Homo sapiens: one gene and its partners. The protein of the gene in region 6 purifies or fractionates together with the protein of the main gene of each other region. This does not show direct contact. Each region holds a gene or a part of one and is shown on either strand. Other genes may lie near its edges. The genes, in order: CABIN1, HAT1, CDIN1, UXS1, UBN1, CDAN1 and UBN2.

What was found.
Region 1: the proteins of CDAN1 (region 6) and CABIN1 purify together in Homo sapiens (affinity purification with mass spectrometry, with the first as the bait; one large-scale study listed by BioGRID). This does not show direct contact.
Region 2: the proteins of CDAN1 (region 6) and HAT1 purify together in Homo sapiens (affinity purification with mass spectrometry, with the first as the bait; one large-scale study listed by BioGRID). This does not show direct contact.
Region 3: the proteins of CDAN1 (region 6) and CDIN1 purify together in Homo sapiens (affinity purification with mass spectrometry, with the first as the bait; one large-scale study listed by BioGRID). This does not show direct contact.
Region 4: the proteins of CDAN1 (region 6) and UXS1 purify together in Homo sapiens (co-immunoprecipitation; one large-scale study listed by IntAct). This does not show direct contact.
Region 5: the proteins of CDAN1 (region 6) and UBN1 purify together in Homo sapiens (affinity purification with mass spectrometry, with the first as the bait; one large-scale study listed by BioGRID). This does not show direct contact.
Region 7: the proteins of CDAN1 (region 6) and UBN2 purify together in Homo sapiens (affinity purification with mass spectrometry, with the first as the bait; one large-scale study listed by BioGRID). This does not show direct contact.

Annotation. Positions count from the first base shown.
Region 1 is NC_000022.11:24,161,096-24,165,172, reverse strand, and holds part of CABIN1 (calcineurin-binding protein cabin-1), read right to left. Parts: intron 774-4,077; coding exon 610-773; intron 1-609. UniProt on the Homo sapiens protein: May be required for replication-independent chromatin assembly. May serve as a negative regulator of T-cell receptor (TCR) signaling via inhibition of calcineurin. Inhibition of activated calcineurin is dependent on both PKC and calcium signals.
Region 2 is NC_000002.12:171,963,661-171,967,737, reverse strand, and holds part of HAT1 (histone acetyltransferase type B catalytic subunit), read right to left. Parts: intron 2,401-4,077; coding exon 2,221-2,400; intron 1,952-2,220; coding exon 1,830-1,951; intron 1,330-1,829; coding exon 1,225-1,329; intron 896-1,224; coding exon 789-895; intron 1-788. UniProt on the Homo sapiens protein: Histone acetyltransferase that plays a role in different biological processes including cell cycle progression, glucose metabolism, histone production or DNA damage repair. Coordinates histone production and acetylation via H4 promoter binding.
Region 3 is NC_000015.10:36,655,951-36,660,027, reverse strand, and holds part of CDIN1 (CDAN1-interacting nuclease 1), read right to left. Parts: intron 2,196-4,077; coding exon 2,123-2,195; intron 1,768-2,122; exon of another isoform or gene 1,734-1,767; intron 1-1,733. UniProt on the Homo sapiens protein: Plays a role in erythroid cell differentiation.
Region 4 is NC_000002.12:106,145,706-106,149,782, forward strand, and holds part of UXS1 (UDP-glucuronic acid decarboxylase 1), read right to left. Parts: intron 1-4,077. UniProt on the Homo sapiens protein: Catalyzes the NAD-dependent decarboxylation of UDP-glucuronic acid to UDP-xylose. Necessary for the biosynthesis of the core tetrasaccharide in glycosaminoglycan biosynthesis.
Region 5 is NC_000016.10:4,853,498-4,857,574, reverse strand, and holds part of UBN1 (ubinuclein-1), read right to left. Parts: intron 1-4,077. UniProt on the Homo sapiens protein: Acts as a novel regulator of senescence. Involved in the formation of senescence-associated heterochromatin foci (SAHF), which represses expression of proliferation-promoting genes. Binds to proliferation-promoting genes.
Region 6 is NC_000015.10:42,730,360-42,734,436, forward strand, and holds part of CDAN1 (codanin-1), read right to left. Parts: intron 3,988-4,077; coding exon 3,867-3,987; intron 3,689-3,866; coding exon 3,579-3,688; intron 2,828-3,578; coding exon 2,738-2,827; intron 2,050-2,737; coding exon 1,974-2,049; intron 1,467-1,973; coding exon 1,261-1,466; intron 973-1,260; coding exon 852-972; intron 713-851; coding exon 566-712; intron 406-565; coding exon 239-405; intron 1-238. UniProt on the Homo sapiens protein: May act as a negative regulator of ASF1 in chromatin assembly.
Region 7 is NC_000007.14:139,237,565-139,241,641, reverse strand, and holds part of UBN2 (ubinuclein-2), read right to left. Parts: intron 1-4,077.

The DNA of each region.
Region 1 (4,077 bases), on a different chromosome or scaffold from region 6:
GAGTGAGACAGCCAGAGGGTGAGACAGTGCAGGCATGGGAGGAGGCCCAGTCCAGCTGACGGAGTGAGGCCTCCAGGCCAGGCCCATCTACATCTGAGCTGCGTCTCTTCCAGGATCCCCCCAACACCCCCTGTAAATGGCAGCTGTAACAGATGGCTCTGTTATCTGTCCTGCCCTTTCTGGCGGAGAGCTCCCTGTTTACCACTGAGGCCCAGGCACCCCTGTCGCTCACCCCACTGTTACTGGCCTTTGTCTGGGGAACCACAGCTATCTTCTGAACATCTGTTTTCCCTACAACCTGACAGCACCCCGAGAGCCCTGAGTTGGGGGAAGCAGGAGGAAAGGAAAGGCTGGGTAGTCCAGAGTCTCAACGTGGAACCAGGATCAGTGGGGACAGGCTGTGTCTGCCCTAGGGTGCCTGGGGGTGGGAAGTGTTGTTTAGGTTCTAGACACTGGGACAGAGAGGCCCCCAAGGAGAATGAAGAGCTGGTCCAGGCTCCCAGCCAGTGGTCCTCACAGCTGGGCCAGAGCAGTGGAGAGGCTTCCTGGGGTGTGTGTGCCCCTGACCCACACAGCATGCCAGGCTGTGTCCAGGGTGGCTGCACTCACTTGCCCTGGTCTGGGGTCCGCTGAAGCATGGAGGACACCTTCAGCAGGGTGCTGTGGTCCCGCAGCTGGGCCAGCACCTTGAGCAGCAGCACGATGGAGCGGTTCATGTGCCAGGCAAAGCTGCCCGGCCGGTCAATCTCGTCCACGGGGATCCGCCAGATGCCCTGTGGGATGGATGGCACAGGTGTGTGAGGGGGGTGGTTGTGGCAGGAGCCTCGGGGACACCCTGTCTGGTATCCCCTGGAAACTGCCACAGTGCCAAAGGGGACACTGCCCAGCCAGGGGCTTCTTGGACCCCTCTCACTGTCCCAAGGAGACAGAAGTGTATCCCCACCCCCTTCCTTCTCATGAGTGGCAGCAAATGACAGACAGACCCACTGCTCTGCAGCCTCCTCTTTTGTATGGCTGCATCTCATATGTTTGCTGGACCTGTCCCCTATGGGATGCACTCAGGTGGGGCCTGATCAAACGTGAGGACAGACAGTGAGAGGCCCAGTGTGTACACCTCCCTGCACAGGTGCTTACCCAGCCACCAGACCATTTGTTAGAGGTGGAACTGCTGAGTCAAAGCAGGCTGCAGGGAAGCTCTGGCTAGGCTCTGCCCTCACCCACTCTCTCCAGCAGTGCCCAGAGAATCATCTGCAGCTCCTGGGATGCCTGGGGTCCCCCTCCCTCTTCCCACTTCTTGCCATCCTACCCCACTCCTCTTTGAAGGCTTAACCAGGGCAAAGTTGACTTTGGGGAGCACCCCCCATTATCTCCCTTGGTCCTTGCTTTACCTGCTGCAGCACTGGGCACCCCCTACCTATCACTAGCTCCAGGGCCTGGTTCCCTGCAGTGTCCTAGTGACCAGCATGGCATCTGACACCTACTCGGGGTCCAGGCAGGGTGTGGGGAAAGCAGGGAGTGAGTGATGAGGAAACAGGCATTAAGGAGGCCCATCTCTGGGGTGGGACCTCAGGGGCCTGGAATAAGTGAACTGGCTCCTAGATGGGTCCCTGCAGCCAACACGCTGAAGAAACTGCTGCCCAGAATGGACCAAGGTTATGAGTGACATTGCTTTCTCCTTGGCATGGGGCCTGGCCCACATCATGCTGCAGTATAGGATTCTGGGGACTTGGGCCCCCAGCTACAGGGACCACTGCAGGATGTCTAGGTGGTACCCCTCTCAGGGCCCTGTCCCTGTGGGTCCTTGCTGATTATCCACAGTATCTGTACACAGGTGTGGGCCCACCCTGCTCTAGCAGCCCTGGGAGGAAAGCCAGGGCACCTCCAGCCCTGAGCTGTTAAGGCCTGAGAGGAGTTTAAAACTCGCAGCCTTGAGACCCTGTGGCCTCTACACTGGCTCCTGTTGTGACATGGAGGGTCCACCTGCAGGCTGGGGGACTATGTGGAGGCCAGCAGCCACCTTCTACTTCCTGGCAGTGCCTGAAAAGGACAAAACCAGGGTACTGAGGCTATCCACATCCAGGGCAGCAAACATCAATGCTGCATCTTCCTACCATGCAGATGTGGATCCTGAAGCAGCTTATGAAAAGACACCTGCTTTCCAACAGACAGGGTCTATCTACAGTAGGCACCAGAATGGGCAGACACTGTCTCCTGGGTCTCCATCCGCTGTGCTGCAGCAGTACGTCCCGCTGAAGACCCTCCCATCCCTGCACCTCCCAGGGCACATAGACACCAACAGACACACCCGTGAGGACGGGTCTAGTTTGCATCACACACACCAGCACAGTTTGGATCCCTATCTCCTTTCCGTTTCCTTTTGTAACATAACACTGCTGATTTCAGAAAGGATGGAAGACCAAACAAATCAGGCAGTGAGTCCATGGAAAATCAGAAGGGAACCATAGACACCGCCGCCCGCTTGGCCACCCCCATGCTATTGTGACTCTCAAAACTTCCCCAGCCAGCCCTGAGAGGCTTGAAAGGCAGCATTTTACATTTGCATGTGCTCTGGTTTCATTCTGGCATCTTGCTTGGCCTTTTTCTGGTAACAGTGTGCTGAAGGGCACGTTTCCCGGGCAGGGTCAGGCCAGCTAGTGTGCCCTTGTTCATCTCTTTACTGTATCTTCATTCACATGCCCCAGTATGGGGGCTCCTATGTTTATTTACCTTGCACTGGGCACTATTCCCAGAAGCCCCTTCTGTTGTGGGCTTGTCCTTTCCCTGCCCCCAGGATTGGCCCCCTTGCCTGCTCGGCCAGGCCTAAGACCCACCACCAGCCATGGGAATTCAGCCAGCAGATGGGCCCCAGGATCCCAGTCAGGCTTCCCCTCCTAATGAGAGCCTTTAGGAATAACCCCTCTTCTCTGTGGCCTGGGGCGGTGTGCAGATGGACATACCTCCCGAACGGTGAGGGGACTTCCTATGGCCATGAGGCTGGCCTCCAGAGAAAGCTGGTCTGAAGAGTGAAGCCACCAGGCAGAGTCACGAGCCAGCAGGGTGGTAGCAAGCCAACTGGCTTTCTGCCTACACCAGGTGGAGCTGGGCTTCTGTGTTTGCAGCAAGAGACCCATGAGAAGGATGATACTGGCAGCCCCAGGATGACCTGGACACAGCGGTTCCCCACAGAGGGGCAGTAGCCACAGCAGCCCTCTCCCTCCACTGTCCCTCTAACACCGGGCCTGTGGAGGGCTATGAAGCTCCTAGAGAACCAAGGTGCTGAGGAGGGTCTCCTGGAGTGGGACAGGTACAAGGGACAGCCCCTGCTTCACCTGGTTTTCCTCACCACGGCCCACACAGGAGGAAGGGGCATGGCCAGGTTCCAACTGCCACAGCAGAAGCCCCACTGCATTCAGCCCAGGGACTCACGTTCGGGCCTCAGGGAGGGTGTGGAGAATGTGCCAGGGGTGAGCTTGGATAAAGCTAAGTCAGGGCCAGAAAAGAAGGGCATAGGCAGCAGTGACCAAGAGGCCTGGCTGAGGGCAGGTGGAGGGAGCCAGCACCAGGCCAACACCCCCACGGCATCTGAGGGAAAGGCAGAGGCAGGATCATAGATGGGCAGGGGCCATAAGTAGCAGCTGAGAGAAGCAGGGTCGCCGCGAGGAGGGTCTCCTCTGGCCCTCTCCTAGTTCTCCCTCAGCCCTGGGTCCCGCTGCTCTGGCCGTACCCCTTGCCTCGCCTCTCCCAGTTCCACAGGCACACTTGCTGTCTTCAGATTTGCCCCACTTGATTCCTGGGCCCTGGTGTCACCAGGGCTGGGTTCCCTGATGGCCACAGTGGCTGGGATAATGCTTGCTTATAGAGTTGAGGGCAGCTGGGGGTGCACACCAATAGCCTCAGAGGACTTAAAGACACTGAGATTGTGCTTGAGGCTTCCCCTCCATGCCAAGCATCTCTTTCCAGGCATCTCAGTCAATCCCCCAACCCTTCAGAACGGCTCTAGGCTCCTCACTGGCAGATGAGGTCACAGAGAGAGATTTTAACAATCTGAATAATTTATGAAGCCCCAGACTCTAAGCT
Region 2 (4,077 bases), on a different chromosome or scaffold from region 6:
ATCTGGTAAAGTATTTTTCAATAAAAGAAAAAGGTAACTTTCAGTTTCATCAGCAATTTTATGAACAACAAATTTGAAAGTTAGAAAATAACATAAATATTCCTTGGGCCACTTTGTTTTTTGGTGGATCACACTTTAACATATTATCTGAAACTCCATCTAATAATGCCTTCTCCTTTTGAAGAGTCAAGTCGAGTAAGTCGAGTAAGTCGTCTTTCCTTCTCCTAAGCATTCTATTCATACTACTACTTCTATGGCTAATCCATACTGAAAGACATTTCCAAAACAAATAGGCCTACATTTCACCTTATCTACTACTGTTGTGAAGGCATGCATTTTAGGAATACAAAACACACACTTTAGGAAATGTGTATTCTATTCAAGAAGTATTTACCTTGACTTTTTTTCTCAGTAAAGTTTATAATATTCTGCCCCTACATGTAAATTAAAGTGCAGGCTGCCTCTAAATAATGCAACTGTTTGCCAAATAAAGTGAACAAATAAGTTATACCATACTTTCAACGTATTTACGCCTGACCAAGACTTCCCCATATATATTCAGCTCATTATCTTCAATTTGTTCCATTATGCACTTCACAGTTAGGGATGTAATCCAATCCCCACAAAGGCTTATGCTCTAAAACATAAACTTAAGCCATCTTTAGATGGCTTAAACACCCTAGGAAAATGTTGCTGTTTAAAATAGTTATTTCTGACAAAAATAAAATCAATCAGTAAGAAGACATTTTTAGAAAGGCTCTTTCAGTAACAAATCAAATTTTACATACCTGTAATATCAAGAACTGTAGGAAATTCAGTGTAGTATCTATGAACTGTTTCAAGAAGTTGAGCACCATGGCCTTGACCTTGAAATGGAGTCAAAATCAGCATCTGACTACAGTAAAGAAATTATTTTAAAATTAAAATATCATAACATGACCAGTTTAAAACCTGCAGATCACTATAGTATTACAAACACTTTAAAGTTTGTGTGATCTTTTTTTCAATCCACCTTTGAGATACCCAAAAATTATCAAGATACTCAAAATTAGTTTAATCTTCTACACTGTTTCAAAGGGAACAATGAAATAAATCAGTACATAGCCCATGAATAATAGTGATTTTTTTTTTAAACAAATCAACACTATTATAACAAGTATTGGAAACTTCAGCAGTTCCTTCTTCTGAAATAAAAGACAAGGCACGTGTTATACTGCCAATTACCTTACACGTGGCCGGGTTTTGTCTGGGTACACATAGTAATTATAGACTGTCATGTAGCCTACGGTCGCAAAGAGCGTAGCTCCATCCTTATTATACTTCTCAAATCTGCAGATAAAACAGAAAGCCAAGCAGGTCAATTACAGTCGCGCTCCCATGCAGTGTCCATTTTCTTTTCCATTCTCTGACTGAATTTTCAGTGTCAGCAAGCTACTCTGTGAGGGCCCAATGGGTACACCTGCTATGTTCTGAATGTACAATTCACTTAATTGGTGTGCAGCAACTTGGATAAATCAGACCTCTTTACATCACTTCAGTGCACTTGCCTATTATAAAGATGAATAGGTGGCAAGTAAAAGAAAACACAGGCAAAGCTCATTTTACTGTTTAAGCCTACATTCAGGGCCCTAACGGACAACAGCATTTAATTCAGCTCTATTCTCAAGGTCTCCCAAAGCATAATGAAGGAAAACTCAAGCCTCATAAACAATAGTTTTTCTTTCCTGGGAAAAATATCATTATACTGTCCCAATAATTGGGCTGCCACAATTAAAATGCTGGCTTTGTGGAGGTAATAAGGTCTACTGTTGCTTTAGAACTGTACTTACACTAGAAAGTAGTGCCATCTTTCATCATCCACGTCAATAAAGCTAGCAGTTTCAATAAACCACATCAAAAAGGTCTGAAGCCTTTCATGATATTCTCGAAAGCCTCTACATGTCATGTCAGCCTAGGGAAAAAGCCAGGAAAAGTCAGGTGAAACTCATCACAAAGGTAAGTGAAAGTCCGCAGAACACAAAATTATCCTGTGGGAAAATGTTTAGAAGTCTCAGATTAAGATGTGAACATAGATACAGACATACACACAAAATAGATCTTGGTTTATAATGCTGATTAAAACTTGTTTACTGCAGTTAGAATAAATCACTGACAACAAAACTACATACAGGTTTCAGGCAAATAGAACTTTACTCAATAAATATTTAGATTTATCTTTACCTTATATATCTGAAAGGTAAAGTTTTCTCCTCCTGTTGGACTGAGAACTGAGTAGGTATGAAGTAAGGTTCCGAATGGCTTGAAATCAACTTCCTTTTCCAGTAAAGAAAGGAAATCATTCGTGTTTGTGCAAAATCCAGGTGGAATGATTTGTCTAATTTTGCCCTCAACATCATCTGCCTAAAGAATAAAGGATATAAAAAATTAATAACAAATTCGACTTTAAGTTGAATATGGTTTATTTCTTTAAAACTGACAAAACCAACACAAATTACAAAACTTTGGTTGAAAACTAAAGAAGTAAACACACAGCGAATTGGAAAAGGATGAGCTTCCTGTGCACAAACTGCATCACACAAAACTGAGATGAGCATAATATAAAAGTAAATAAGAGAAGGCAGGTGACCTGATACCAAGTACAATAATAAGGGCAATGCTATGGACATTTCCATTATGCAGAAACAGCTGACTATACCCCTTCATGACAGTCTGAACTGGCCAAGGCAAAAGGTTGCTTATTATTTTATATGTGTCAAAGAAATCATATTATCCAAGACATGAAAAGATCACCAGCAGTGGTGAGATGAGACTAGAGTCTGACCAAATGAATAGCAATCTCACAACTAGATGGGTCACAATTCCCTCATATGCCAAACTCAAACTAAGATGATAACTTAAAAATATACATATTTAGGAAATAACATAAATTATATGAATGGATATATCATTCTTTTATCCTTAGAATGTGACACAATTCTTACAGACCTGGATTTGTGACAGTAAAAAAGAGACAAGACTGGACAACAAAACTAAACTCGGAGATTAAAATTACCCTTGTTAAACAACCTCTATCAATGTTATCAGCTGAGCAGACTTCATAATCCTTTTCAAAATCCCAAAAGACCACTTGATTGAATACATTTACTACTTCTCTTTAACCATGAATATTTGATGAAGTCTTACAATAAAGTATTGCTGCTTCTCACCAGGCAATAAAACTTAATGAATTGGTCTCAACTTAACAAAACCTTATCCCTCAATACAGTCCCTAAAAGCCTGACATTACATTCAACAAAATGAGCTTGTATTCTATTCAAACTTTTTCCTGAACAATGAGGCCAGGTTTTTACTTAATGGAGTTTGCCGTGAGTTCAGCTGTAATGTTTGTATTGTATCTATTTCCACAAGGACTGACACAAGAACACTTTGTGTTAACTTACTAAGCAGCTCTTTCATACCGTTTACATGCATGATGGGTATTAGTTCTAAACCAAGACCCTTGCTACTTAGCATTCAAAACAGGGAAATTAAGATGCTTAGGACAAAATACACTACAAAAGGCTAATACAACATGCTACTAATTCCTATCCTTTCAACCATCTTTTAACTAAGTAGAAGCAATGCACCTGCAGATGAATAGCACTTTATTATGATTCAGTTACATTTCAGGATAGAGAACCAGTGATGACGTTTATCACAAACAAGTTTTATTTTCAATGCTCTGGTACCACCAACATTTATATATAATTTGTTTATAGGTATAAAAAAGACCTATTATTGAAAATATAGCTCTTCAGCATTTTGCCCAACAGTTTATTTCTAATATGTACATCAGTCCTTGCAACTCATTCACACTCTAGATCAAATAAACTGCATTTCATAGGACAGTTTTTGCTTATTTTTAAAGTACTATTTGATAAATATTTTTCCTTGAAATTGCTAACATGAAGAGGCCATCGTAAGCATATTTTATAGTATCAGTACAATTTCAACAGCTATCAAGGAAACTGTCATAATGAGGGATAGCTGTAATAGATGTGTTGTGTAGCAATTAAAATCCAAAGTAGTGATGAGTAA
Region 3 (4,077 bases), 6.1 Mb from region 6:
AAAGTGTCAGAATATAAGCCACAGTAACTTAAAGTTCTTTAAGAAAAAAAAAAAAAAAAAAGAAAAGGAAGGAAAAAGAGAGAATGAAAAAGACGAAGAAAAGAAAGGAAGATAACCTAGCACCATCAGCAAATTAATTGACTTCTATAACCTGGCATTAATTTTAACATTTTCTGTCACTTTTTGAAATGATAAACCCTCAATTATGGTTTGTCATATAATCATAAAAGATTTTTGAAACCATTTTCTGTCCAGAGAAATATTTTAATACAGCATTTTTGACTGGCAGTCAGCCTACTGGCAAATAGGGAGTTAAAATGGTGCCTTCACAATAGCCTAGTATGATGATTAAAAATAACATCAAATATCTGTCATGATTTTACTCAGGAAAAAAAAAAAAAAACAAAACCTGACTCTGTAACAACTCACAGTGAAACAACCATTAACCCAACCAATTATAAAAGAAAAAGCTTCAAAATACTGTTATTTGATTATACATAATCATAGTGTAATTCAAGCATACAATATTTACATTCGCCTCCTTTCCAAGCAGCCACATTCTTGAAATACCCTTTCCTTGGTATGTTTCTAAATATGCTCATGTCCTTCTCCAGTGTATTCATGCAAGACATTTAATCCTAGCATTGGAATTATAGGATTCTGATATACAGTACACATCAAAATTATATTCAGTACTATTTAACTCTGCTGTATAAAATGGTACAAAATAAAAAGAAAAATGTACTGAAGATGTGCCAGTGTTATAAAGATAAATTAATGGCTACAAAATTTATGATCAACCTATTAACTTCATAATTCACAAGTCAATGAATTCTGTTTTACTGTGTTTGATACTGCTCTATATAGGCCAGTCTACCTGCTTCAGACTATGCTGACTACTATTTTGACAAGACCTGGATAGCAGTAGGTCCAAAGCAATCAGAAGGTTGACTTTGACAAATGGCGGTGCTGCTGCGAAGTTGAAAATAACACACATCCACTTTAATCTCTTTCTTGATTAAATCGAAACCATACCATTCTGACATCATGTGATTTGCTCATGAAGCATCACTGCAGGTTACTTTGGAGGCTACATCTATTGAAATGATATTGAATTTTTAGGGGAAGTACTTAATTCATTCAAATGAAACCTTCACAAGGTAACTGGGCCACCAGTCACTGGTAACTGCAGATTCAAAGAAAATCAAAGGGAAAAAATCCCTGACAAAATATAAAAAAATAAAAATCCAACATGTACTACTGAATGATGTTTTAGCAGGTATTATCTTCTACTTTCAAAGAGGGAAGATTATGTGCATAAAGCATATTCCAAAGCTTTTTACCTATTCTACCACAGCTGAGCTCCAAAGGTAAACATTATACTAGGTAATAAAAATGCAGAAGATGAAATTGTCTTTTTTACATGAGACTAGGCAAATATTTATGGGGCAGTTGACAAACTCCTGCCTAGTAAAAGAGCCAGCACTGAGAGCAATTATCCTGATATTCATGACTCACTTTGAATATCACATTGAATATTACTCATAAATCTTTTACGAGCACATCCCCAGAGCTCACTTAACAGCCGGTTTTAATCATGCAGTTGACACAGAGAAAATAACAAAATGTATTTTTTCAGTGGCAAATTAATTTAGGCTTGAACCTCCTTCTGTAGCTCTATTCTTTTCTTTTTTTCTTTTTTATTTTCTTGTAGGAAGACCAGTGGAATTCACCTTTGCATTTGGAAGTAGTATTTCTCCGGTCTTGCTGAATTAAAATAAAAAGGATGAATGTTTCTTTTAGAGCCAGTTCCTGACAATGGTTTTTCAAATGATGTATCTTATTCTATATACGAAGATGAATCAATTTTTTAGTTTGATACACATTGTCTATTTAGCTCAATGGAGAGGTTGAGTGTGGAATTTAGACAAAGAAGAGAGCATTATTCTGAAGAGTATTTAAGTTGTGGGTGGTCTTTTATATTGCATTTAATTGTCATTAACTGTTCATGATAGCTGTTTTGGAATCTGGCTCTCATTAAGTGACTTGAAATGCTGTGTAAATTATTTTTAAATTGGGGAAGGGAGTAAAAGAGTACCATTAGGAAAAAAGGGTAACTCACGTGGAGTTTCCTCGTGTTCCTGTAGAAACCTCTCCAGTATAAGCCGAGCCATTAATGAGGGCGCATAGTCCACCTTTATAAAACAGAAGTAGAAAATTAAAACTATCAAGTTGTGCGAGCAGTGGATACTCCAGTATTTTGTCAACACTGAAGAATAAGTCAATTTTAATCAACCATAGCAAGCATCATTCATTAAAATCTTTCCCACCCTTGGTGGCTTCCATTATAATAAAATTATAACAAGTATGGTTTGGGCTGTTGAAAAGAATAAATGGGTCAAATTTATTGAATATAACATTGGAGCAAAAAGGATGGAACAACTTAGAAAAAGCATTCGTCTAAAACAGTGAAATAGGCTTTTTTCATCTCTCCTCAATTTTTTCTGTTGGTAGGCCAATATAATTTTTTATTCAAGCCATGCTTCTTTCTATGCAACTGTCTATATTTATACTGTTCTGAATGCAATTTCAAATAATAAGCCCTTTTTGTTATTTAGTGACAGTTTTCAAAAACAGAGTCAAATGTCCTTATATGACAAATCCAAATAAGGATTTTACTGATTTTATCTTTAAAGACAACTGAAATTTTGGTATAAATTCCTTACATTTAAAATATTTTATTTGATAAAAGACAACTACATTGCAGAGATGTTAATAATAAATTACAACAATATAATATCTGCAACATAAGATCACCGTCCTTATCTGAAACACTACTTACCAATTTAATTAATACAGATCCCAGGGTGGTAACTTTTTAAAATAAAGAACCAGTCAGAAAACAAAGGATATTCAGTCCGACAGTCATTTTAATTAATAAAAAATGTATCTACTATTTTGTAAAGATATTGTCTTCTTTGGGGTTCTTAAATCTTTTATTAACCATTTACTTAATTTCACCAAAAAATAGGAACACACATTTTTAAGAACAATAATGCTTCCCTAAAACGAGTCTTTTTATCTTAGGTGGAAGACAGCAAACATTCCTCATATATTATCACCATGAATTTTTCCTGACAGGTTTTCAAGTCCCGTATTCATACCAAAATTTTATCTTGATTTAGTAACTAGACAAAAAGGCTGGCTTCATTTGTATGAACAGTTTTTTCAAATACGTATGTACTTGGATGCCCTTAAATTCCCCAAGTAGAAAGAAATGCTTTCCACGAAGCTGCTTATTCCTAGTAACCCACATCAGAGCTGACACATGAAAAATGGTGAAATTACTGAAGGTAGTCCAGCCTGAATAAGGACTACCTTATTAGTTCAGGTACTTGCATCTCCCTAATTTTCATATTAATCATGTGTCCATCTTTCTCTGAAATAGGGCCATCATGCTTCATGTCAGAATTTAGCATGTAAATAAAATGCATAGTGCTTCAAATCTCACTTGAAAATATTTGTGTGGAGAGAACAGAATGACTGATCTTATTATCACTAACGAAGTGTGAATTGCTAAAATGTTCAATTTTAGACTTGAAACTGGAAAAGTAGTATGAAGACATTTATAAAATCAATGATGACCACATACAGCCCTTAGCCCCCCAAAAAGATAATAAAAATACAATGCTCTTGTCTAAGAGAGTTGCTGCACCCTGTAATGTACCAATGCTATATATTTCTCATCAATTTTTATAGTTTCCCCTGATTAAATAAATATCAGCTCATAAAGTATTACCATCACATCAATTGTCACCAGATGCAAGTGTATGTTATCTAAGTATTACCTATCTGGAAAAAATGGCACCTTGGTTGTTTAGAAGCTATAATATGGTACCAGCCATTCCTAAATTTCCCTAATGCATTATCAATTTCATAGAAAAGTGCTATTCTTTCTGTACTAGTCTGTAGCCAAAACGGAGGAAAAGTCTTTAAACAACTACGTTTTCTCTTGGCTAAATACTGCTATATATTCATGGTAAATAAAAGGTTTATTGATGTAGGAGAAAATGTGTT
Region 4 (4,077 bases), on a different chromosome or scaffold from region 6:
GGACATAGCTCACGTGGCTTTAATATTACTGCTGAGAACTTTAAAAATTACTTTATAGAAAAAACGATTAGCAAAATGCAGAGATTTGGTGAACTACCAAGAAAAAAAAACTTAATATTTAAGTTAGATTCAAAAACTGCAGGAAAAACAAATATCTTTTAAATTGTTTATGAGAACAAATTAATAAGCAATACATGCTGTTTGTAGACTAAAGCCCTAAACGCCTAAGTCCACTGTGTGGTTAATTTCTGAATGGTGATGTGAACCCAGTGTGGTATACACTCCCAGCCACAGAGCACGATGAGGCAGCTGTGAGGGGTCTTGACGGTAACTCAGTAATAACAAAACCTAGACCCCTGCAAAGGTGAAAAGTCAACTGCGCTTGAAAAATACTTTTAAGTTGAACACAGGTATTTTATTCAAATTAAATGGTGTAACTGGAGGAGGATAAAGGGAATTTCATCTGGGGGAAGGTTATAGGCGGTGGGAGTGAAAAGAATAGGCTCAGAAAACAGACGTGCCATGCACAACTCAATTCTCTAGCCTGCTGTATCCTGTTCTCCACTCTGCCTTCTCTTCACCAAAATTCTCATTCATTTCACCCTTCTGTTTCAAACGGAAAGTATTAATAGGAAGACAGCAATCCTTTCTACCTAAAATAAAAGGTATACAAACTCCTAGGTCTATGGTTTTAAAACATGTAATTCTCCATGAAACTCCTGTTTAAAATAAATGAAATCTCACACACGATGAAGTATTCACCACGGTGAGAGAGTAAAGCCACCTGGATTTGAGTGGAGTGGTAGCTCATGCCTGTAATCCCAGCACTTTGGGAGGCCGAGACAGGTGGATCACTTGAGATCAGGAGTTCAAGACCAGTCGGGCCAACATGGTGAAACCCTGTCTCTACTAAAAATACAAAAAATTAGCTGGGCGTGGTGGCACACTCCTGTAATCCCAGCTAGTTGGGAGGCTAAGGCAGAAGACTCACTTGAACCCAGGAGGCGGAAGTTGCAGTGGATCGTACCACTGCACTCCAGCCTGGGTGACAGAGAAGACTCCATCTCAAAAAAAAAAAAAAAAAAAAAAAAGAAGCCATCTGGATGAAAAAGATCAAAAATGGCAGAGGAGAAGTAAGGGGAGGCTATAAACTAAAAATGAAATTTGGGTTGGGTGCAGTGGCTCATGCCTGTACCCAACACTTTGGGAAGCCAAGGTGGCTGGATCATTTGACGCCAGGCGTTCAAGACTAGCCTGCGCAGCATGGTGAAACCCCGTCTCTACTAAAAATACAAAAATTAGCTACACGCCTGTAATCCCAGCTACTATGGTGGCTGAAGCACAAGAATCACTTGAACCTAGGAGGTGGAGGTTACAGTGAGTTGAGATCACACCACTGCACTCCAGCCTGGGTGACAGAGCGAGACTCTGTCTCATAAATAAATAAATATCCTAAGTCCCCCAACTGAGTGGGCCCCCTCTTGGCCAAACGGAACCCCAGAGAAACCTGAAAAGCTGAGTTCCCAGCAGTGATGTGAAAGGAGATTGGACATGCCTCACTATACTTTCTCTTTTGGAATTTAGACACAACTGACCAACGTTAATATTAAAACAGAGATCATAAACAGGACCTAGGGTCGTGCCAGACAGGAGCTAAGTCACATCCCTCCAAGTCATTCTGACCCAGTGTATTGGTGAACAGACTTCCTTGTCATAACTTAGATTCCTTTCTGCTGACTCCAAAGTTTTACACAAAGATTTACTCCTTTAACCAATTACAAAGTAAAAAATCTCTAAAGCCAGGGAGGTCAAGGCTGCAGTGAGTGGCAATTGTGCCACTGCACTCCAGCCTGTGTGACAGAGAGAGACCCTGTCTCAAAATAAATAAAATAAAATACAGAATCTCTTAACCCGCCTATACCTGTGAGCCCCCACTTCAAAATAGCCTGTCTTTTTGGGCCAAACCAATGTAAAAGCCCTATATATTGATTTATACCTCCTTGTAACTTCTGCCTCTCTAAAATGTATAAAACTAAACTAATCCGCCTGCCTCGGGCACACTTACTCAAGGCTTCTTGGTTTTGTGTTTCCTGGGGCTGCAGTTACTCATACTGGATCATAATACACCTCTAAAATATTTTAGAGTTTGGTTTTTCAGTTAACAAGGCCAACCTCAAGAATAACCATCCCTTAACCACCACATAGATATTACATATGCTCTGATGAAATGCAAATCAAATGGTTAAGACAGGATGGGTGAGACCAGGCATCCTCATGCTCGATAGCTTTCATTTGGCTTTACCAACAGCACCATTTTCCAAATCCCCTTTGCCTTCAAGATAAGAAACTGACACCCAGAGAAGTTACGTCTTTGACTAAAATCCTCAGAGATCACTAGCTGGGACACACTAAAGCTACAGTCTTTCTAATTACACGCTCTCTACTGCCTGTCAATTTGTCTGGTTCGTGTTTCATCTTAAGAGCTCCCACATTCTACTGCTATACCTGAACAATGACTATGAAAAACGATTTTCCAGAAAAATAATTGAAATTCAAAGTTGACTCACCACTAGAGCTTAACTCACGGGATGAGATTTCATTTTATCTTCACGTTATTGCATTTTTTCCAAGTTTTCCATGATTTTTACATTTAAAAACTTGCAACTTTTAAAAAGAAATGTAACCCCTTTTAACATAACTGTTTCTCTATATGCAAATATTTCTGAAAACAAAATGTTCAGTGGCACTCTAACATTATCTCTGCACCCAAAATACCTGGCAGACAGTTCTGAGATATCAGAGATGCAGCGTATTAAATTACACATGATCATCTCCAACATCTCACTAGTCTTAGTACTGACGTAAAATTGTTGGAAGCACCTTAGCTTGACTAAAATGCACTGGAATTTTTTTTTCTGAAGTAATTTCCTTCTACCTAAAATACTTAAGATTTATATAATATAGCTGGATGGTTATGCAATTTTTTATCCTAATCAATGTTAGCCCATTAGGCAAGTGTTTCAAATAGAAACAAATTTGGTGAAAGCTTAGCACTTACAAAGCTCTATCAGGAACACTAATCACCAAACCCAAGGATATTCTTTGAATAACAAGGAGCTAATACCCAAAAGAGAACAGGAGAAAAGAAGTAAGACCTCTTACACTGAGATGGATTAGAACTTACACGGCTTTGCATGGCTTTCCAGTATAGGGGTTTGTCTCAGTGTGCTTTCTTGCTCGCTCTTGTGGGTGCCAATAGGCAGCTAAAGTGGTCTAGTTCAAGGTCAGCAGTCAAACTCATGATGCTTAGCAAATTAGCAAAAAATCAAAAAATGTATTTCAAAGCAAGTCTCCTCTTTCTGTTGAAGCTGTCCTAAGGCTTACCAATTTACTGAAAAGGCTTTAAGTTATAGCAACAATATACCAGACTCACATGCCAAATGCCTCAGAAATGTGCTTAACCTATGAGATGGCAGATGAGGGGAAAAAAAAAACTAAGTCTGTTTGCTGTGGTGATGTGTAAAGCAAAATAAATTCTATAATACTCAGCATCGACAGGAAGATCATTCCATGTGCACATAATAAAATTCATGGCAAGATTTTGCAGCATTCCTGTAACAGTGCTGCTGTGCTTTTAACGTGTCCACCAAAAGCACATTTTGGTAATTTAATCCCCAGTGCAACAGTGTTAAAAGGTGGGGTGATTAGGCCATGAGGTGAAGTAAATGGATTAATGCCATTATCAGAGGAGTGAGTGTGTTATCGTGGAAGTGTGTTCCACATAGAAGCACGAGTTCAGTCCCTTTGGTCTCTCTCTTGCTCTCTCTTTACCCATCCACTACGTGATGACATAGCAAGAAGACCCTCACCAGGTCACAACCCCTTGATCTTGGACTCCCCAGCCTCCAGAACCATGAGCCAATAAATTTGTTATAAATTACCCAGTCTTAGGTACTCTGTCATAGCAGCACAAAAAGGACTAGGACAGAAAATGGGTACCAGAGAAGTGGGATGATGCTTATACAAACACCTGAAAATGTGGAAAAAGCTTTGGAACTAGGTAATGAGTAGAGGCTG
Region 5 (4,077 bases), on a different chromosome or scaffold from region 6:
TCCCACTGAATGTGGTGCAAGTTCTTGAGAGCCGTTCTGCCATACTGTTTAGAAAGGTCTGAATTTGCACTTCTCTCGGTGCTACCAAAGTTAAACTCAGGCTTCCAAGGCTTATTTCCATTTTATAAGCTTATTCTTTTCTCATCAAGCAAATTTTCCACAGATAAGCCTTAAGCTTTGTGAGCAAGGAATCCAAAAAAAAAAATTTTTTTTTTTTTTTTTTGAGATAAGAGTCTCACTCTGTCACTCAGGCTGCAGTGCAGTGGCACAATCATGACTCACTGTAGCCTCAACCTCCCCAGGCTCGGGTGATCCTCCTGCCTCAGCCTCCTGAATAGCTGGGACTATAGGCATACAACACTATGCCTAGCTAAATTTTTTTTTTTTAAGTTTTTTGTATAGATAGGGTTTCATCATGTTGCCCAGGCTGGTCTCAAGCTCCTGGGCTCAAATGATCTGCCCATCTCAGCCTCCCAAAGTGCTGGGATTACAGGCGAGAGCCACCACACCCAGCCAGGAGCCAGGAATCCTAATTTTAATAAGACTCCTGTACGAAGTATGTTTAAGACTTCAAGGTAGACAGAAAACACTAAAGACTGTATGCCTGTTTCAAACAAACTTTCTTATCTCACCCTCCCATCTCTGCCTACTGAAATACCACCTGCAAAGGATCAGTTAAATGATTTGTGGTGTACACATACAATGGGATATTATAGAGCATACATCTAACGATCATACCTCAAATGGGGAGTCTTTCAAACATGCTTATCTGGATCTTCTAATTTTTCTACAATGATCGCATATAACTTGAGTGGTTATGTAACTGTAAGAAATCCCACCAACCTTGAGCAGCACTGGATTCTATGTATACTACTGAACGCCTTGCCAACAGCAGTCTTCCAATAACTACCATTTCCTGACTGTATGACGGAAGGTCCAGCTCTGTCCCAACACTAATCAGGAAATAAGCTCTCTTCTTTCTAAGACCTCCAGGGCCTGTGTCGTACCAGACTTAAACAATGACCATATTGTAATTTCTGTTACCTGCGGTGGTACCATTCTCTCAAAACATCTATAGGATGTTTGTTTTGAGGCTGGTACAGTGTTTTCTCTAACTTTCTATAGTCCTCTGAGTCTAGCACAATGCCTTCATACTATTAAGGACTATACACTAAAAGAACTGCTGCACAAATGTGCCTGATTTTATTGTATTTTTAACACTGCAGAGTAGACCCACGACGATTTAGGAGTTCTGAACCCGAAGTCCAGGACTGAATCCTCTGAATTGGATCAAAATTCTCTGTGTATCCTCCATGCATTTTTCTGCAATGGTGAAGGGCATCTGTAGTCCCCAAAAAGGTGACATCAGAGCACTGGAGTTCTAATTTCAGTTGACCTGCTGATTTGGTTTGAACCCATGAATAAACACATTAACCAACTCCTGCTCCTGTCTCTTCCTCTAAAGGAAGAAGATACCATTTTCCTGAAACAGGAATTATAAAGGGATTTGAAATTACTTTCTGTCATTCTGCCCAGTGGTGCTCATGCAACAGGCTGACCCTTGGTACAGACTCACAGGCCTCCATTCTGGCAATCAGGCAATCAGATCTCAATCAAGGAAACACTTTTTCTTTTTTGGTTTGGTGTTTTTTGGTAGGGGGAGATGGAGTCGCCATCACCCAGGCTGGAGTACAGTGGCATGATCTCAGCTCACTGCAATCTCTGCCTCCTGGGTTCAAGCAATTATCCTGCCTCAGCCTACCGAGTAGCTGGGATTACATGCATGCACTACCACACCCGGCTAATTTTTGTATTTTTAGTAGAGATGGGTTTTTGCCATGTTGATCAGGCTGGTATCAAACTCCTGACATCAAGTGATCCGCCTGCCTCGGCCACCCAAAGTGTGGGGATTACAGGCATGAGTCACTGCGCCAGGCCTTCCAGCCTTTTTTTTTTTTTTTTTTTTTTGACACAGGGTCTTGCTTTCACCCAGTGCGGTGGTGTGATCACGGCTCACTGCAACCTTGACCTCCCAGGCTCAAGCAATCCTCCCACCTCAGCTTTCTGAGTAGCTGGAACTTCAGGCATGCACCATCATGCCCAGCTAATTTCTGTATTATTTTGCACAGATGGAGTTTCACTATGTTGCCCAGGCTAGTCTTGAACTCCTGTGGTCAAGTGATCCTCATGTCTCAGACTCCCAAAGTGCTGGGATTACAGGTGTGAGCCACTATGCCAGGCCAAGAAAACACATTTTTTTAATCTCAGGAAAAAAAGATTAATCCTTCTAACCAAAAATACCCTCCGAACAGCACACCTGTGAATAAGACCGACTGATCACTTGGCACTGAGGCATACTGCTAGAAAATTCACAACATGATTTCATTCTCGTTCCACACTCAGACAACTGTGAACCAATTACCAGCCTCATCCCCATTTCACTAAGAGACATGCTAGAGACCACAATGCTGCGAGTGTGGGGCCCACTTACCTTTTCCTCAGAGCCTAGCACAGTGCAAAGGCAGACACAGGTGCTTAAAAATGCTTTTCACGGGCCAGGCACGGTGGCTCACGCCTGTAATCCCAGCACTTTGGGAGGCAGAGACGGGCGGATCACGAGGTCAGGAGATCGAGACCATCCTGGCTAACACGGTGGAACCCTGTCTCTACTAAAAATACAAAAAATTAACCAGACGTGGTGGCGGGCGCCTGTAGTCCCAGCTACTCGAGAGGCTGAGACAGGAAAACGGCATGAACCGAGGAGGCGGAGCTTGCAGTGAGCCAAGATTGCACCACTGCATGCCAGCCTGGGCGACAGAGCGAGACTCTGTCTCAAAAAAAAAAACAGCTTTTCACCTAGGCGGTACTCAAATACCATACAATTCCATCTACATAAAATACAAAAACACGGCCAGGTGCGGTGACTCACGCCTATAATCCTAACACTTTGGGAGGCGGAGGTGGGTGGATCACTTGAGGTCAGGAGTTGGAGACCAGCATGGCCTACATGGTTAAAATGGTAAAACCCCATCTCTACTAAAAATACAAAAAAAAAAAAAAAAAATTAGCCAGGCGTGGTGGCTGGCACCCGTAATCCTAGCTACTCGGGAGGCTGAGGCAGGAGAAACATTTGAACCTGGGAGGCGGAAGTTGCAGTGAGCCAAGATTGCATCACCGCACTCCAGCCTGGGTGACAGAGTGAGACTTGGTCTCAAAAAACAACAACAACAACAAAAAAGAGAGGCCAGGTGCTGTGGCTCATGCCTGTAATCCCAGCACTTTGAGAGGCCAAGGTGGGTGGATCACAAGGTCAGGAGATCGAGACCACCCTGACTAACACATTGAAACGCTGTCTCTACTAAAAATACAAAAAATTTGCCGGGCGTGGTGGCGGACGCCTGCACTCCCAGCTACTCGGGAGGCTGAGGCAGGAGAATGGCGTGAACCCGGGAGGCAGAGGTTGCACTGAGACAAGATGGTGCCACTGCACTCCAGCCTGGGCGACAGAGTAAGACTCTGCCTCAAAAACAAAAAAACCCCACAAATCTAAGCAGATCTAAGCTGTTAGAAATCAGGGCAGTGGTTGCCCATAAGTATTGAGGTAGTCTTCTGGCAGGGCAGAAGGAGGGTTTCTGGGGTCCTGATAAATATATTTTGTGACCTACGTGCAGGTTACATGGGGGTACTGAGTTCATGAAAATCCATCAAGTTGTGGCTAGGTGCAGTGGCTCATGTTTGTAATCCCAGCACTTTGGGAAGCCAAGGCAGGCAGATCACTTGAGGCCAGGAGTTTGAGACCAGCCTGGCCAACACAGTGAAACGCCATCTCTACTAAAAACACAGAAATTAGCTGGGTGTGGTGGCGTGCACCTGTAGTCAGTCCCAGGTACTCGGGAGGTTGAGGCAGGAGAATCACTTGAACTCGGGAGGCGGAGGTTACAGTGAGCCGAGATCGCCCCATTGCATTCCAGCCTGGACGACAGGGCGAGACTCGGTCTCGAAAAAAAAAAAAAGAAAGAAAAAAAAAAAGGCAGTCTACGTGTTTTTTTGTCTGCCCCTATACTAGGTAGACAGCAA
Region 6 (4,077 bases):
TCCTGCATGGGGACTGTCTCTCAGCGGGGCCACCTCAGGAACAGCATGAGGCCAATGAAAGTGCAGATGATTTCCCACTGTACCTCAGGGGAGCCAATCGTGCCTCTCCCAGGGCTCAGTTATGGCCAGGGCCCCACACGCACAGTGCAGACTGCTCGACCCTCTTTATTAATAGCAGGCTTGACCAATGTCCCGAGTCCCGAATCCTTTCATCAAGCCTCAGCCTTGTTCCACTCACCGGTGCAGGCGCAGCAGGAGAGTGAAGATGTCCCGGTAATATTCCAGCAAGGGAACAACATGGTCAGCAAAGGAGAGAAACTCCACCAGCCAGGGCACGGTGAGCACCGCCCGGCGGGCCTGCAGCCCTCGCTGCAGCAGAGTCCGCACATCCAGGACCGGAGGGACCTGGGAGGGCCAGAGCTCAGTCAGGGGGCAGGTCCCTAGGAAGGGCTGGGAGATGCCCTTTAACCTGCCTGGTTTCCAGAATAGCCAAGGAAACCAGTCAGCTTCAGTGCCTGGCCGGTCCTCCCTGCTCCCTCCTCACCAGAATCCCCCGCCCATTCACCTGGCTCCTGAGGGCCAGAATGGAGTCCTGAAGCTCACCGGTCGGGGGAGGTTCAGGCCCCCGGTATGGCAGGAAAGCCACAAAGCCCAGGAATTTAGCCAAAAGTCTCAGGCTAAGAAGCACCACAGCAAATTGCTTCCGCTCACCCTGCATGGAATCAAGGGAAGTAAAAGGTCCAAGCATGAGGCTTCCAGAACAATTCCCGATCTGTTATAAAGTTTTTCTTGAACATACTCCCTTCCCTCCTGGGTCAGACCCCATTATTTCCCTTGTTCTGTTTTCGGACCTGCCAGTCTACGTCTGACTCCCCGTCTTCATCATTGGGCTCATGCTGGGGCAGGGCAAGACCATTGAGCTCCTGGATCTTCAAGCTCAGACTGTCCATGAGATGCTGGTTAAACTGGAAGCTGAGAAGAAGGGGTGGGTGGGGCATAAGCACTGGAAGAGGTACAGGAAAAGCCAGAATCGAGAAGGGGCACTCCAGAGGGAAGGGAGCAGCAGGACAGACAGGGAGGCCCAGGAGCAATGAAATCACCCACGTGGGTGACAGAATGAGAAGTGCAATGAAGCCAGCAAGTTGGAGCTGGAAGGAGCCTATCTCCAGGCAAAGGAGACTGGAGAACTATTTACCCTTTTGGGAAGCCAAACCTTTCCTGGCCTCTGCCCCATTCCTTGCAAGACACAGGGGAGCCTACCTGCTGGCACTAAGGATGAAGTCCCTAAAGAAGCCTTGACAGCCTGGGAAGGTGGGGGGTGGGCAGGGCCCCCCACTGCTCTGAGGAGCCATAAGCCGTTCCTGTAGGCGCCACAACCGCCCCAGCTTGTCAGCTCCCAGCATACTCAACACATCTGGGGCCTCGCCCAAGACGGTGCCCCCAGCACCACCAGGGCTCTGACACATCTAGGGTGGAAGAGGAAGGAGAGAAATTAAAAAAATCAGCAAGTGGGAGGGAAGGACTGAACAAAAAATAAGGAGAAAGTAATGAACATTTAAGGAATGCCAACTGTGTCAAGTGCTTTAGATAGATTTTCTGAGATGTGAATTACAGTATTGTTTCACAGGTGAAGAAACTTAAATTCCAAGGTTAAGCATGTGCCTAGGGTCACTAGAGCTAGGATCTGAAACAAAGCTTGACTACTTACTAAGCCTGGGCTCTTTACCACAGCACAAATCAGGGAAGGCAGCAGCAGGCTAGAGGAGCTGCAGGGCCCGGGATGTGTCAAAGAGAGTGCCCTGGCTTTTCTGTGGCCACTGGAGTTTCAGCCACTCCGCGAGGAGTAGAACTCTTGTTCAAATTCCAGCCCAGGACCTGCCAGGCTGTCTGCCCTATCCCAAAGTGCAGCCGTTAAGTGGCTGCCTGTGATGCCTGCTGTTTAATGTGGATTAATCTCTTGCTGGGGCTGTTACCTGGAGTAGTTGTTTTTGGAAAAGCCGAACAAAGTGGCTGTGGCTGCAGGCTGCGGAGAGCTGACCCATCATGGCCCTGAGGAATAGAAGGCAGGAATGAAGGGTGTGGAAAGGAGGGAGAGGGAGAAAGATCTGAGAGAAGCAGCCAACCCCTGGACTTCCCAGCCGTTTACCAGGGACTTGAGCAGACCTCAGCCAGAGCCAGCCTGCAAAGGGACACTGAAGGCAAGGGACACTCCCTCAGCACCAAGGTCCTCCGAGGCTAGAGGTGCACTTAACCAAACAAGAAATCATGCGACCACACCCCCCGACCGTCTTCAGCCACACTAACAGGCGGCGGGTTTCATGAGCAATGTGAAGGGAGATGACTGGACTGAGGTTCGCGTTCTGAGCCCAGGCATCTACCTGCACAGTGACCAGACTTGCCCAAATTAGAGGATGGAGAAGATGGAGGCTGGATGTGTCTAAGCAGTGACTTGGGCCAAAAAAACCTCAAGCAACCTGAGTTAAGAGCTTTGGACTTTCTAAGCAATTGCCACTACAGAACAAGGATAAGACACCTGTGAGTGGAAGGAGCTGGAGAGACACATCCCTTTCGAATAGAGGCAGAGTTATCAATAACTAAAGAGATTTCGGAGGATAGTAGAAAACAGCTAATGGCTGGTAGGAGCGGGGAAAACCTTCCCTCCTCCTCCCTCCTGCCACCGAGCAAGCACTGAGCTACTCATTGCCAGGAACAAGAAAGACAAGGTCTGAGCACCCACCTGATTCTGCTGCCCAAGCCCTTCTCAAAATCCCAGCCAGGCTCCTCATGGTGATCTTCCCACTCTCGCAGCACCTCATAAAACACATCCCTGACGCATAAGAACGCCTGATCAGCCGAGGCACTCACTCCCACCAGTGCCTTCCTGCCCCTGGAAGAACTATCCGTAGCCCACCCACCACCTTTTTTTTTTTTGGAGATGGAGTCTTGCTCTTGTCACTCAGGCTGGATTGCAATGACGCGATCTCAGCTCACTGCAACCTCCGCCCCGCCTGGGTTCAAGCGATTCTCCTGCCTCAGCCTCCAGAGTAGCTGGGATTACAAGTGCCCACCACCACGCCTGGCTAATTTTTGTATTTTTAGTAGAGACGGAGTTTCACCATGTTGGCCCGGCTGGTCTCAAACTCCTGACCTCAGGTGATCCGCCCCTCGGCCTCCTGAAGTGCTAGGATTACAGGCGTGAGCCACCACACCCGGCCAGCAGCCCCATTTTTAAATTTCTCCAGAGTTCTCTATATGATGACAGTAGTGCTACAGACCAGCAGCACATTACAGGCTTCATGTACTTCTGTGGGCAGTGACAGTTCATCCTGGCACACTCTTGCTTGAGAACCCTGAGACTAAAACCATACACCTGTGAGATGGCTTGCTAAGCGCCGGGGTTCACAGATGCACATGAGAATGAAGCCAGGTGGTCCCTATGATGGCCGGCAGGAAGGACCTGGGGGGACTAACCCACCACCTGTTGGTGCCAAACTCCTAATTTCTATGAAACCAAACAGCTGCCTATTCCAGAAAAATGTCATCTCATTCCCTCCCCAAAAAGTCCCTTTTCTTATCACCTCTGTTTCTTAAAAGTATGAAAGGCTCGGTCACTGGAGAAGTTGGCACGATTGTCAGTCTCTGGCTGAAAGGAGACAGCTTGAGTAGAGGGAGGCATCACCAGAGAGACCTAAAATACAGCAGGAACGTTAGGAACTGCAGGGTCATGCTGAGAAAACTTCTCCCTCTTATTCTTGCCCAGAGTTAGCTCACATTACACTGAAGTGTCGTCAGCAGGGTTGCCTGAATTTATGAAAGCTAGGAAGGGTTAGGTCCAGGCTAGTGGGCAACTAAGCTGGGGTTACTACCTTGGCAACACTGCCCTCATAGGCAGCTCGAAGGCGGCCTTGCAGAGCTGGTGAGAAGCACAGCAGCCGCTCATTCTCAGCCAGCAGCTTCAAGGTCCCTTTGTCCAGGTTGGAAAGAACCCTGCAGGGACAAGAGCACCTATGACTGAGACCAGAACACAGACTGCAAGTAGGAAGCAAGCACCTGCACACCACAGAGGATCTCTAAGGC
Region 7 (4,077 bases), on a different chromosome or scaffold from region 6:
TTTGAGTGAAAACAGTGTTATTCCATTTGGTCAACTGTTTTATTTATAAGACTGCTCAGAATTACTTTTCTACTATCAAATCTACCCTTACCCTTCTTTTTAAAAGAAGTATGAAACTACTAGGGCTCTGAGAGCCCAAAACCACATAGAACTAAGTGTGAAAGATAGTATTCAAGGTCTATATAGCACAGTAAGCAGATTTTAAAGTTATAATGTGATTTCATGATTATTAATAAATGCCTGGCAGAATATATGTCTTCCTATTCAGAGAGTCATTCAGATTCAAAGAGTCTTAACTGAGCCCCTGCTAGGCACAAGGTATTGTGTTAGGTGCTTTCATTTAGATTAGTGAATTTATATCCAATTCTAGGACAGTATGATCTTTCAGAACGGCTGGGGTAATGGAGTGAGAAAAAAATCACTAAGAGAAATCTTCCAACAATTATAGGTTATCCTATGTCCTAGAAGGCTAAGATAACAAGTCTATACCCATCAAATTGAAGCATCCTACTCCTGAGTATAGAGTATAGGTGGCCTCATAAAAGGCATATATTACCTACAGACTATCTAAAAACTGAATTGGAAACCAAGATGTTTTGCCTAAACATTTTGGAGCCTTAACTGGGAATAAAGAGAGGCATGGGAGCCTCTTTTACCTGTATCCTGCCTCCTTTCTAACCATCAAGACGAATCTGGAGCCTATACGGTTGTAGAAATGTCAAAACTTGGACTTAGCTATTTAAAAAGATTTATGTACAACAACCAATTTAGTATAATCTAGGTAAAAATAGGTACTTAATAGTCATATTGACCTTTTCCCAAAAAACCATTTAGTAATTGATGCTGAATATGAACTGTCACATTACCTGAGCATAAGAACAACATAACAGGAAACAGAACATGGCCATAAAAATAGGACACAATGGAGGGGGGAACCCCATAAATTCAATGCAGGGTGCTCTTTTTACAATTTTATACTCCCTGTAATTTCTGATATCACTGATCTTCAACTGCTGCAACACCTGCCCCAAACACCAATAAAGATCATTGTAGTTTAAGAGAGAGATTTTGTGATAGCCTAGAGCTCTAGGCATATAACGCCCAGCAGGACAATGTATCTTCTCTCAGGTCACTTTTGGCCTGATGATTTTCTTAAAAGATTCCAAATAATTATTTAAAAAAAAAAATATATATATATATATATATATATATTTAGGCTGGGTACAGTGGCTCATATCTGTAAACTCAGCACTTTGGGAGGCTGAGGCAGGTGGATTGCTTAGGCTCATGAGTTTAAGACCAGCCTAGGCAACACAACAAGACCCTGTCTCTACCAAATAAATATATATATACATATACACACACACACAATACTCATAGATATAACACTTGGGCATGCTTTTTGGTTAATATACATACAATCTCTAATTAGAATGGAAATAAGACAGTAAGTCAGCAAAATAAAAATCCAGAGAAGAAATATAGCCCATTAATTTAGACTATAACAAGAGTAATATTTTATCACTGTAAACAAAATAACAAGGCTTAAATATATCTAAGTCAATTGAAACTCAATTTCACGCATCAAACAACTTCTTCAGAACGCTGATCTTTCTATGCCAGATACTATCCTAGGGTTGACTAAGAAGACTTAATGCTAACTTTAAGGTAGTGCGTCATATACTGAATCACTTTACTTATAGGATTATATATAGGAATTTTTCCATTTGCAAAGGGCAATTCTAAAATCCTTGATTTTGTAACCCACAGCAAAATAGACACTCTAGGCTGGGCGCAGTGGCTCACGCCTGTAATCCCAACATTTTGGGAGGCCAAGGCGGTGGATTACCTAAGATCAGGAGTTCGAGACCAGCCTGACCAACATGGTGAAACCCTATCTCTACTAAATACAAAAAATTAGCTGGGCATGGTGGTGCATGCCTGCAGTCCCAGCTACTTGGGAGGTTGAGGCAGGAGAACTGCTGGAACCTGGGAAGTGGAGGTTGCAGTGAGCCGAGATAGCGCCATTGCACTCCAGCCTGGGCAACAAGAGTGAAACTCTGCCTCAAAAAAAAAAAAAAAAAAAAAAAGACACTCTAATATAGTGATGGAGGGAGTAGAACTGGTAATTTAGTAATATATACTAAAATTATAAATGCATAAATCTTCCGACCTGAATCGTCTGATTCTAGGAATCTCTCCTAGAGATAAACTTGAAATTGTGTAAAATGCCATTTTACAGACTAATTTACTGCAGCACTATTAATAAGGGCAAATTTTTGAAAGCAACCTAAATCATTTGGGGACTGGTTACAGTGTGATAGTTCCATGCAATGAAACAGCATGCAGCCTTAAAAAAAAGGGAGAGAAAGCACTTTGTCCTGATATGACCCCCCCAAATATACTAAGATACAGTAAATAAAAAGCAAAGAGCTTAAGTGTGTACAATTCTATAATATGTATAAAAAGGGGGTGGGAAAGGAATAGATGTGTATGTATAGAGATGTATCTCTAGTACCACAGGAGTGTTACTTGCCTAGGAAGTGGGATTCCATGGGTGGGCAATACAATAAAAGGAAGATTTTTAATTTTTGAATTTTGAGCCACATAAGTGTACTAGTTGGTTAAAACATTAAGTGTAACCAATGTATAACTTGTATAAAAAACACAGTATTTTAGGATTTATACATGCTAGGATTTTAGGATTTATACATCCTATAGGATTTTACAATTTATACATCATGATACAATATAGTCTCAAAAGATTACACTGTAATTAAATACTACAATGCTATTCCTTCTATTTAAACACCCACCAGTCTATCCCTAAATTTATTATTATATAGTCACAGAATAGAGAACAATAGGGTCTCGGAAAAATCTGAACCTCTCAATTTATAGATAGGAAAACTGTACCCTTGGCCAGGCCCAATGGCTCACGCCTGTAATCCCAGCTCTTTGGGAGGCCAAGGTGGACAGATCAGTTGAGGTCAGGAGTTCGAGACCAGCCGGGCCAACATGGTGAAACCATCTCTACTAAAAATACAAAAATTAGCCAGGCATGGTGGTGCATGCCTGTAATCCCAGCTACTCAGGTGGCTGAGGCAGAAGAATTGCTTGAACCCAGGAGGTGGAGGTTACAGTGAGCCAAGATCACACCACTGCACTCCAGCCTGAGTGACAGAGACTCTGTCTTAGAAAAAAAGAGAGAAAAAGAAAACTGTGGCCCAAAGCTAAAAAACCTCACCAAAAGGACACAATTAGCAGATGGCAAAGTATGGCCTAGGACCTGATTCCAATTCCAATCTATTCTCATCTACTTCTTCTACCTTCAAATGGTTTCTTAATTACCACAAGGAGCCAGCACATATGGGTCAAGATCCCTGTTGTATCTTGAGGGTACAAGGCCCTCAATGACAAGGCCAATGTGAGCTGATATCCTTTCTCCTGTGGGATACTTTTCAATGCTCACAGAGGAATCAGAGGGGTAAGGTGTTGCTTCTCAACTGGGTTATGTTTTAGTAAAGTGCCAAGAGTACTCAAAGCCATAGTGTAAATGTGGGGTGAGGAGTGGGGCTTTCTACAAATTTAGTAATACTAGAAAATTTGAGAAAAATGTTAAGCAACTTAATCAGGTAATTAAAAATTGTTTTTGTATTCAAACAAACACCACTATATTGTGGCACTGAATATAAAATGTACATGAATATTTAGCATAAACCGGACACTTTCAAAGAAGTCTCATGCTGGTTCTGAGTCTGACGCAATGAGCTTAGAAGTACACACATTCACTCTCAAACTCTTAGGAGGCAGGAAGGTTTCAGAACTACTATACCAAAGGAATTAAAATAGCATTCTCGATGGTGGCGGAAAGGGAACAGAGTTAGAGCTACACAGACCTGGACCTGTAGCCTACTCTTGCCACTGTGTGACACTGTATCAGCTACTTAATCTTGAACTCAGAGCCTCAGTTTCCTCATCTGTAAAATATGGTCAATATTACTTAGCTTGTGGTTTTGTTACAAAGATTGGAGATAATATATGTAAAGCAAACCGCCCAGACTCTAGAAAGACTAT